Homo sapiens: one gene and its partner. The protein of the gene in region 1 purifies or fractionates together with the protein of each later gene. This does not show direct contact. Each region holds a gene or a part of one and is shown in the gene's direction. Other genes may lie near its edges.

Region 1 (4,875 bases):
CCTGGGCAACACAGCGAGACTCTGTCTCAAAAAAAAAAAAAGATACTTCTCTTTCTTGGACAAACCTGATAACCCTATCAAATTCTAGCTCTTTGGCCTCCCTTTTCTAGACCACAGCAGAAAACTCCTTTTCTATAGAAAATATTTTCCTTGGCCAGGTACGGTGGCTCATGCCTGTAATCCCAGCACTTTAGGAGGCCAAGGCGGGCGGATCATGAGGTCAGGAGATCGAGACCATCCTGGCCAACACGGTGAAACCTCATCTTTACTAAAAATACAAAAAATTAGCCGGGCGCGGTGCCGGACGCCTGTAGTCCCAGCTCCTCGGGAGGCTGAGGCAGGAGAATGGCGTGAACCCGGGAGGCGGAGCTTGCAGTGAGCCGAGATCGCGCCACTGCACTCCAGCCTGTGTGACAGTGCAAGACTCTGTCTCAAAAAAAAAAGAAAATATTTTCCTTGCATGTGAACCCCATCTCTACTAAAAATACAAAAAAAATTAGCTGGGTGTGGTGGCAGGTGCCTGTTATCCTAGCTACTCCGGAGGCTGAGTCAGGAGAATTGCTTGAACCCAGGAGGCAGAGATTGCAAGTGAGTTGAGGTTGCACCATTGCACTCCAGCCTGGGCAGCAAGAGTGAAACTCCGTCTCAAAAAATAGCTACAGCATTCATTTTTGTTTTTGTTTTTGTTTTGAGACAGTCTCGCTCTGTCGCCCAGGCTGGAGTGTAGTGGTCCAATCTCGGCTCACGGCAACCTCTGCCTCCCAGGTTCAAGTGATTCTCCTGCCTCAGCCTCCCAAGTAGCCGGGATTACAGGCGCTTGCCACCACGCCTGGCTAATTTTATTTTTTAATAGAGACGGGGTTTCACCATGTTGGCCCGGCTGGTCTCAAACTCCTGACCTCAGGTAATCCGCCCACCTCGACCTCCCAAACTGCTGGGATTACAGGCGTGAGCCACCGCGCCCAGCCTACAGTATGTGATTTTGTTTCATCGATCATTTCACAGACTATGTATGAGATGAAATAGCTGTGGCCACATAGATAAGATATGGCAGTTTCTTATGATTTCAGTACTTCATATTTACCACCTTTTCAGGCAAGTTACTTTTTTTTTTGAAATGGAGTTTTGCTGTTGTTGCACAGGCTGGAGTGCAGGGGCATAATCTCAGCTCGCCGCAACCTCCGCCTCCCAGGCTCAAGCGATTCTCCCGCCTCAGCCTCCGAGTAGCTGGGATTACAGGCATGCGCCGCCACATCCGGCTAATTTTTGTGTTTTTAGTAGAGACGGGGTTTCTCCATGTTGGTCAGGCTGGCTTTGAACTCCCGACCTCAGGTGATCCGTCCGCCTCAGCCTCCCAAAGTGCTGGGATTACAGGCATGAGCCACTGTGCCCGGCCAGCAAGTTACTTTTTATCCATTATACAAGACCTCTTGGTTGCTAGAAGAATTTTTTTTTTTTTTGAGACAGAGTCTCGAGTCTTGCTCTGTCACCCAGGCTGGAGTGTAGTGGCATGATCTCAGCTCACCACAACCTCTACCTCCTGGGTTCAAGTGATTCTCCTGCCTCAGCCTCCTGAGTAGCTGGGATTACAGGCATGCGCCATGACGCAGGCCAATTTTTGTATTTTTCATAGAGACGGGGTTTCACCATGTTGGCCAGGGTGGTCTCAAACTCCTGACCTCAAGTGATCCACCTGACTCTGCCTCCCAAAGTGTTGGGATTACAGGCGTGAGCCACTGCGCCCGGCTGCTAGAAGAATCTCAGTGGCCAATTCTGTTTGGTGGAAGTCATTATAGCCTCCTGTGTATTTAGTGTTCCTGGGTTAATGTCCTTCTATTCATGGTAATTCATGAAATCTCAAAATAATCTCCAAACAACTTAGTCCTTGCTCTAACACCTATTCATTCTTGATGGTATATTCTGTATTGGCACGTTATCTTAACTCCCCAATCTTTTCCCTCTATATGCAAGCTATTGAATTAATCAGTGTGCTCTCATCAGCCCAGTTCAGGAAAAACACACTTCCTTTTTTGATAGTCTCACCCCTTGGAGTGACTCTTCTTCCTGGAGGCACTTTTCTAAAACAGTATCGATGGAAAAAAGTAAACAGATGGCTTCTTTTGCCTGAAAAACAGTAGTAAGTGGGTTATAATATATTTGTTTTTTAATCATGTCTTTATTTTTTAGCATGGGGCTTAACATTTTTCCTACTCTGAGTTATCCCAGATCAATAATAATTTCTATATATTATAAACCCTTATTTGCCAAAAGGTACTAGTACTATGTGCTAGTACCTTCCTTTCCATTTCATTGGTTTTTTTTTCTCATAGTCTGTCATGCTTGTTTCCTGACTTTTCTTGCTACCATAGTCTTTATCTTGCTTTTATTCATAGAGTTGACTGCTTTCTATTTGATATGTTCCAACTGCCATTTTTTTCTTCTCACCCTTGATCCAAATTTGATTTCTAATTATATAAGATAAACAAGAATGCCAAACTTACTGCCCTTTGACTAATTAGAACATGGAAATAATTTGAGTTTTAGAGAATAATAAAGTTTTTTTCTTCCATTTACAAAAGTAAGAAAACTTAAAAAAAAAAAAAGACTAGAAAAGAGAAAACAATCATGCCATAGTCTGCCACCTGAAGAAACCACCCTTGCTGTGTTCCTCCATCTGTCCTCCGTGCATGTGTGTTTGTATGTTTTGAGCTTGTGGTCACATTTGATAATGCTATGATGATTCCCATACATCTTTAGTAGACTTGGTTACAAATGCACTGTGTGGGACAGGTGCAGTGGCTCACGCCTGTAATCCCAACACTTTGGGAGGCCAAGGCAAGCAGACTGCTTGAGCTCAGGAGTTTGAGACCAGCCTGGGCAATGTCGGGAAACCCTGTCTCTACAAAAATACAAAAAATAGCTGGGCATGGTAGCACACACCTGTAGTCCCAGCTCTTCAGGAGGCTGAGGCAGAAGGATTGGGCGTGCCTTGGAGGTCAAGGCTGCAGTGAGCTGTGATGGTGCCACTGCACTCAGCCTGGGCAACTGAGTGAGACTCTGTCTCAAAAAAAAGAAAAAAAAAAGCATCATCTGATTTTAAATAGATCTTTATAGGTGTTAGGTGTTCAAAAGTATTTGTTAAATGAAATGATTGAATCCTTACTCCTCTCTGTGCCTCAGTTTTCCCATTTCTTAAATGGGGAAAAAATAATTTACAAGATGTTTTGTGAGGATCAGTGAAAAACAAACTGGGCATGTTGGAAATGGTTAGGTCATGTCAAAACTCTCCTTGCTGGCTGTCATATCGCTTTTTTCCCAGAGGCTACTACTTGAGAAGAGGCAAAGGAAAAAGCGCCTTGAGCCATTTATGGTGCAGCCCAATCCAGAAGCCAGGCTACGTCGGGCAAAGCCAAGGGCCAGTGATGAGCAGACTCCCTTGGTGAACTGTCATACTCCCCACAGCAATGTCATCTTACATGGTGTGTATTTAGGCAGCATCACTTCCTAGTGGGGTACAATTTTCACAAACCTAGAAGGCACGAGGATTGTCAGACGGACCAAAGGGACAATATTATTAGCACCATTACTAGGTACCTTCATAAATCTTTATAATCACATTTGGGGTCTTTGAGGAGAATAAAAGCAATGATATAATCAGTGGAAGATGCCTTAAGGTTTGCGTCCATTTTAGAACTGTTGTTTTCTTTTTTTTGAGACGGAGTTTTGCTTTTGTCGCCCAGGCTGGAGTGCAATGGCGCGATCTTGGCTCACTGCCAACCTCCTCCTCCCAGGTTCAAGTGATTCTCCTGCCTCAACTTCCCGAGTAGCTGGGTTTACAGGCGCCTGCCACCATGCCCGGCTAATTTTTTTATACTTTTAGTAGAGACGGGGTTTTACTATGTTGGCCAGGCTTGTCTCGAACTCCTGACCCAGGTGATCCACCCGCCTTGGCCTCCCAAAGTGCTGGGATTACAGGCTTGAGCCACCATGCCCGGCAAGAACTGTTGTTTTCTAGATGCCAGATGAATGAGTTTAGAATGACCTATTTGAGGAGCTCTTGATTGTTAAATCGTGGCAGAGGTGAATCATGAAGCCGGGAATAGGTAGAGAGCGTCCATTCTTCCAACAGATAGTTGAAAGGATCATCTGAGATGGGGAGGGGCGGAGGAAGAATAAGATTGTAAGTGCCTCTAAATCAAGCCACTGGAGCTATTGGCTTGTACAGGATCTGTACTATGGAGGACCTACTTTGTTTTCTTGGTCTCATTCTTAAGTTTCTGAAGTACATATTACTTCAGTTACTGAAGTACAAGTACATATGACTTTAGTAACAGAGCATGTTAATAAAATGAACACCAGGCTGGGCGTGGTGGCTTATACCTGTGATCCCAGCACTTTGGGAGGCCAGAAAGGCAGATCACTTAAGGCCAGGTGTTTGAGACTAGCCTGGGCAACATAACAAGACTCCATCTCTACAAAAAAATTAACAATTAGCCAGGTGTAGTAGCACACACCTGTAGTCCCAGCTACTCGGGGGACTGAAGTGGGAGGATCGTTTGAGCCTAGGAAGTCGAGGCTACAGTGAGCTGTGATTACACCACTGCTCTCCAGCCTGGGTGACAGAGTGAGATCCTGTCTCAGAAAAAAAGAACACCAGTTCTGACCTTCTCTCTTAACAAATGTTCTTATGGATGTTAAGAAAGGAGGGCAGATAAAATGATTTGGTAGTTCTTAATTCTGATCACATATGCCAAATCTACCCAACTAGTGAATAATACTTTGCTCCTTTTTTAAAATTCATTTTATTTTGGCCCTTAGGTATTGATGGTCCAGCTGCTGTCCTGAAACCAGACGAAGTTCATGCTCCATCAGTAA
Region 2 (4,875 bases), on another chromosome or scaffold:
GGCGCAGGACACATTTTTTTTTTATTCCATTAACATATGGGATGCAGAGGAACTTATTTTTTTCAGAATAGAACTCTTATACTATGATATCTTAATTAATTCTCACAGTGACCTGTACATTTGCATTACTAACAGCATTTTATAAATGAGCAGACTGAGGCGTTGTAAGAAGGACCAGAGATTCTTTTTGCCTTTAAATTCGCGTCCTTTTTATGGTGCTATGCCACTGCCTTTCAGGAGGATTATAGATGCTTAGTGATAGTGTGCAGAAGTCAAGTAAGGTATTAAACGTGTCCTTAGTTGTGGCAAAGTAAGAAGTCATTCTGCAACTTTAGGGAATGGAGCATTGGAGGAAAACTGTGTTTCACTGAAATGTGTTGTGGGGGTCTGGAGATGGGGTATGGAGCACACTTTTAAGAAACATGGCTAAAAAGGAGGTTAGGGAGCAGTGATCACAAGGAGGGAGGCAGAGTAAAATTACAGAGAACAGTCGCCTAACTGATCTAGAGAAGTACATGGACTATAGCCCTCCAGAAGCAAGAGACTATATAAAACAGAGCTGTCGGACGGGCGTGGTGGCTCACGCCTGTAATCTCAGCACTTTGGGAGGCCCAGGCGGGTGGATCACTTGAAGTCAAGAGTTCAAGACCAGCCTGGCCAACATGGGGAGCCCCATCTCTACTTAAAAATACAAAAATTAGCCAGGTGCGGTGGGGTGTGCCTATAGTCCCAGATCAGGAGGCTGAGGCAGGAGAATCGCTTAAACCTAGGGGGCAGAGATTGCAGTGAGCAGAGATTGCGCCACTGCACTCCAGCCTGAGTGACAGAATCTCCAAAACAAAACAAAACAAACAAACCAGAGCTGTCTAGATACCCTTAGATTTCAATCCTGTCACTTAGTCACCTGTATTTCTCACTGCTACTGAACAAGCTGTAGAGTCCAGGTAGGTAGGTATGGGGTGGCCCAAACTGCTTTCTGGTGAATCAGGTGTATCCTAGTGATGGTGGGAAAGTGTGGTTTCTGTCTTTGATGAGGTTAGCAACCAAGCCTTAGACATAATCGTAGGAAAAATGGTAGACAGCACAGGCCCATTTTTATTCAGAAGTTAGTAGGTCCTGATAGTAGTTTTGTCTTGTATATGGAAATAATATAACTTTGGAAAAAGCTTAAAGACAACGATTTTCATTGAAAAATAGTTTATTTATTCTTAACTGACAATTTATTTGTCGCAGAACTCAAAGCCGAGTAAGATAACATTTGATGATATGTTGAAGAATTAAATTTGTCATTACTTTGTAATGCTGTAATAAAATACTGGATATTTTAAAAAGAAGATTTTTTTTTTTAAAGAAACCTATGGTCTGGCAATGGAAGCCTCTTGTCTTTTTTTTTTTTTTTTTAGTTCCTGTTTATTGTCTGCCTTTCTGTTTTCTAAAACGTTCAAGAAAATGTGGGCAAAGGAAAAAAGGTGAAAGCAGCCTCATTTCGGTGCTGTTAACAAAAACTTAGGAAAAATAATTTAAATTATTAGAAAACATTGAATTATTTCAGTAATTTTATGATCATTCAGTTCTGCAATCCTTAGCATTGAGTTCTAGCCATTAATAGTATTTTAAGAAACTTGGAAGAAAAAAGTCACATTGCCTGAATTTTACATTATTCTAGATGTTAGATTATTATCTGCTTCTTAGAGTATTTCAGAGCACCAGAATTCCTTTATAACATTTTTTCATTATTTCCATTTAGACTTTGATTAATTACTATTGTCAAGAGAGATATTTCCATCATGTATTACTGGTTGCCAGTGAAGGAATTAAGAGGTATGGAAGTGATCCAGTCTTCAGGTTTTATCATGCCTATGGCACATTAATGGAAGGTACGTGTTAATCATTAAACATGTTCCATCAGTTTTAAATTCTTGCTTTGCACTAAGAACAGTTTTTCATATCATAATCTTGATTTTCAGGTAAAACTCAAGAAGCTCTTCGAGAATTTGAGGCTATTAAAAATAAACAAGATGTATCACTTTGTTCTCTACTTGCACTGATATATGCCCATAAAATGAGTCCTAATCCAGGTATGATATTTAAATGCAATGCTTAGGACATTTTTTCCTATTCAGTTTATTTTTATTTTTCTCAGTTACCAAGTCATTCAGTCTGATCACACTATATTATGTATTTTCTGTAGGTACAATTTATACATATGTTTATCTTCCTGACAAGGGTGTAAATTCATCAGGCACAAGAAATGTGTCTTATACTATTTTCGTGTTCCTTATATCCTCTGGCAGAGGTTTCATTAGTACATAGGGATTTTTTTAGATAAAAGGGAATGTATATTAGTAATTGTTACACAAAAAAAGGACAGCCAAAGAAACAGGTACCGTATGTACATAAATTGCTCTGCAGCAGCCAAGTTTACAACTTTTGTGCAAATATACAGCCAATGCAGTTTATTTCTGTATATTAAGCTTATTGAGAGCCTTAAAACCCTTTATGAGGGCTAGCTCTTGGGAGATATTCAGCAAATTTTTATGCAGTAGTAGGTTGACTAGATTCTGACTAGATTATAGAAGGAAATTTATACATAAACCAGCAATTAAAGTTGTGTAAACTGCCAGGCACAGTGGCTCAAGCCAGTAATCCCTGCAACTTGAGAGACTGAGGTGAAGGATTACTTGAGCCCAGGAGTTCGAGGCCAGCCTGGGCAACATAGTTAGACCTCCATCTCTAAAAAAAAACAGAAAATAAAAAATAAAGTTATGTGAACTGTCTTAATGTATAGTTAATGGCGAAGGCAGAAGAGTATCCAAATTGTATGTAATAAAGAAGAAGTAGTGTTATATTCTTCCATAAATATATATCCAGTAACAGCTAATAGGATTGTAAATATAGATTGTGTTTCAAAAAATTACATAATAAACAAAGGTCACAGACTGGTTCCTTGAATATTAGACGAGACTTTTTTCTAAAGCCAAGTATGACATACCTCCTTCATACATATGCAAATCAATACAAAGTTATTTAAAACATGTAAATATGTGCTTAATTTCTTCAAGAAACTGTGCCTAATACAGTTACAAGCTACAAAAGAATTCTAATAAGTGGTTCATGTCATCAAGTTGGTAATCTAGTGGAGAAAACAAAATGTAAAAAACACAAAGATTAAATTCCAATGTTTCTATTAAATAATACAAAATGAAACATGAGTTTATAATTAATTGAAGTTGGTATGCACTATTCAGCTGTAAGAGTAGGCTGAGAAGGCTTTTGAAATTTTGGAACTTAATCTGATCTTTGAAGGACTGGTAGAATTTGAATATGAAGAGTATTGGCCAGAGAGGAGAAATGGATGGGCAAATACATGGAAGTGGTTCAGGATTAGGCTCTTCTGTGGATCCCCTTTCTCCGTACTCCAGTGGGAGTGTGTTTAGCTAGAGCAGAAAATTTTCATGGGAGAGCTGTAGTTAGTATAGATTGAAGAAATTAGTACAAAATAATTTATTATTAGAATCAAGTTTTTATTTAATTGGTTATTCTTACCAGTGTTGATTCTGTTGGACACTGTGATTTGCAGGACACTGAAATGACAGAATCAGAAATACTGTTCAGAGGAACCTGAGTGCTAACTCTGCTTTGCACCAAGGATGATGCTGAATGGACTTGAGCTCTAGTAGGGGCCCAGATGTCTGTAAATACTGCCTAGGAAAGTCCTAGATTGTTAGTATACATTCCTTCCAGGATGCTGATGTAAATAAACCCTGCTTATAAAAAGGCTGCGATCTTTCAACAACTTTGTGCAGACGGTGTTAGAGCTGATTGATACCTCATTAGGGACGTGATGGAAATCTGAGTAGGAAAGATTTCCTGTACAATGCCTGCTTCTGCCTGGTGGTTGTTTTTTTTGTTTGTTTGTTTTCTTATTTCTGTTTCTGTATCATGGCTGTTTAATGAACACTTCTGAAGGGGTTGTAGGGGTGGGGAGTGGGGAGAGGAGAAAAGGGTCTTCTTGCTAAGCAATCTGTAGACTTACAGAAACAGTTTTGTTTCCTTCACTCATTAGATTGTACCTTGTTAATTTCACATTTAAATTTGTATCATTAGAGTTGAAAGGAAGAGTCACATACCTTTCTCTTGGTAGCCATTCCAGAAAGAGAACTGTTGGAATCACAGGCCGCAACTTACATTTCTTCTTCCTCATTGCATGGCTGATTCTGATTCTGATTCCATCCAGGGTTTGGGTGTAATTGACTTCTGTGTCCTAAGCAGATACTAATATATATATATATATATATATATGGGGGAGGGGAGAGAGAGAGAGAGAGTGTATAGACTTAATGTAAGTGAATAGAGTTATCTATTTAAGGGAGCAGTCAGTATTAAACTATAACAGCAATTATGCCATCTTTTTACTGACCCATAACAGTAGCTGGCATGTTTATATATTTTAGAATTGTATTTAAGAATTATTAATACGTTGAGTACCAGTACTGGACCTGTTCCTAATAATTGTGGTTAGAACCATTATACATTTTTATAAGTCTTATTATTAAAAAATATTAGTATATACAGCCTTTCTATTTTGGGAATGATGTAAACTCTATAGCTATATTGTGCATTACAGTGATCCTTAACCATATACCTCCTCTGTTGCCCAGGCTGGAGTGCAGTGGTGCAATCTAGGCTCACTGCAACCTCTGCCTCCTGGGTTCAAGCAATTCTCCCTGCCTCAGCCTCCCAAGTAGTTGGGATTACAGGCACCCACCACCACGCCCATCTATTTTTGTTTTTTATTTTTAGATGGAGTTTCGCCATGTTGGCCAGGCTGGTCTCGAACTCTTGACCTCAGGTGATCCACCCACCTCGGCCTCC

The links. The genes of interacting proteins can lie anywhere in the genome.
Region 2: the proteins of TULP3 (region 1) and TTC21B purify together in Homo sapiens (affinity purification with mass spectrometry; 6 studies listed by BioGRID and IntAct, with this or other methods). This does not show direct contact.

The regions. Positions count from the first base shown.
Region 1 is NC_000012.12:2,917,444-2,922,318, forward strand, and holds part of TULP3 (tubby-related protein 3), read left to right. Parts: intron 1-3,319; coding exon 3,320-3,479; intron 3,480-4,818; coding exon 4,819-4,875. UniProt on the Homo sapiens protein: Negative regulator of the Shh signaling transduction pathway: recruited to primary cilia via association with the IFT complex A (IFT-A) and is required for recruitment of G protein-coupled receptor GPR161 to cilia, a promoter of PKA-dependent basal repression machinery in Shh signaling.
Region 2 is NC_000002.12:165,946,597-165,951,471, reverse strand, and holds part of TTC21B (tetratricopeptide repeat protein 21B), read left to right. Parts: intron 1-1,747; coding exon 1,748-1,877; intron 1,878-1,967; coding exon 1,968-2,078; intron 2,079-3,150; exon of another isoform or gene 3,151-3,437; intron 3,438-3,546; exon of another isoform or gene 3,547-3,584; intron 3,585-4,130; exon of another isoform or gene 4,131-4,275; intron 4,276-4,875. UniProt on the Homo sapiens protein: Component of the IFT complex A (IFT-A), a complex required for retrograde ciliary transport and entry into cilia of G protein-coupled receptors (GPCRs). Essential for retrograde trafficking of IFT-1, IFT-B and GPCRs.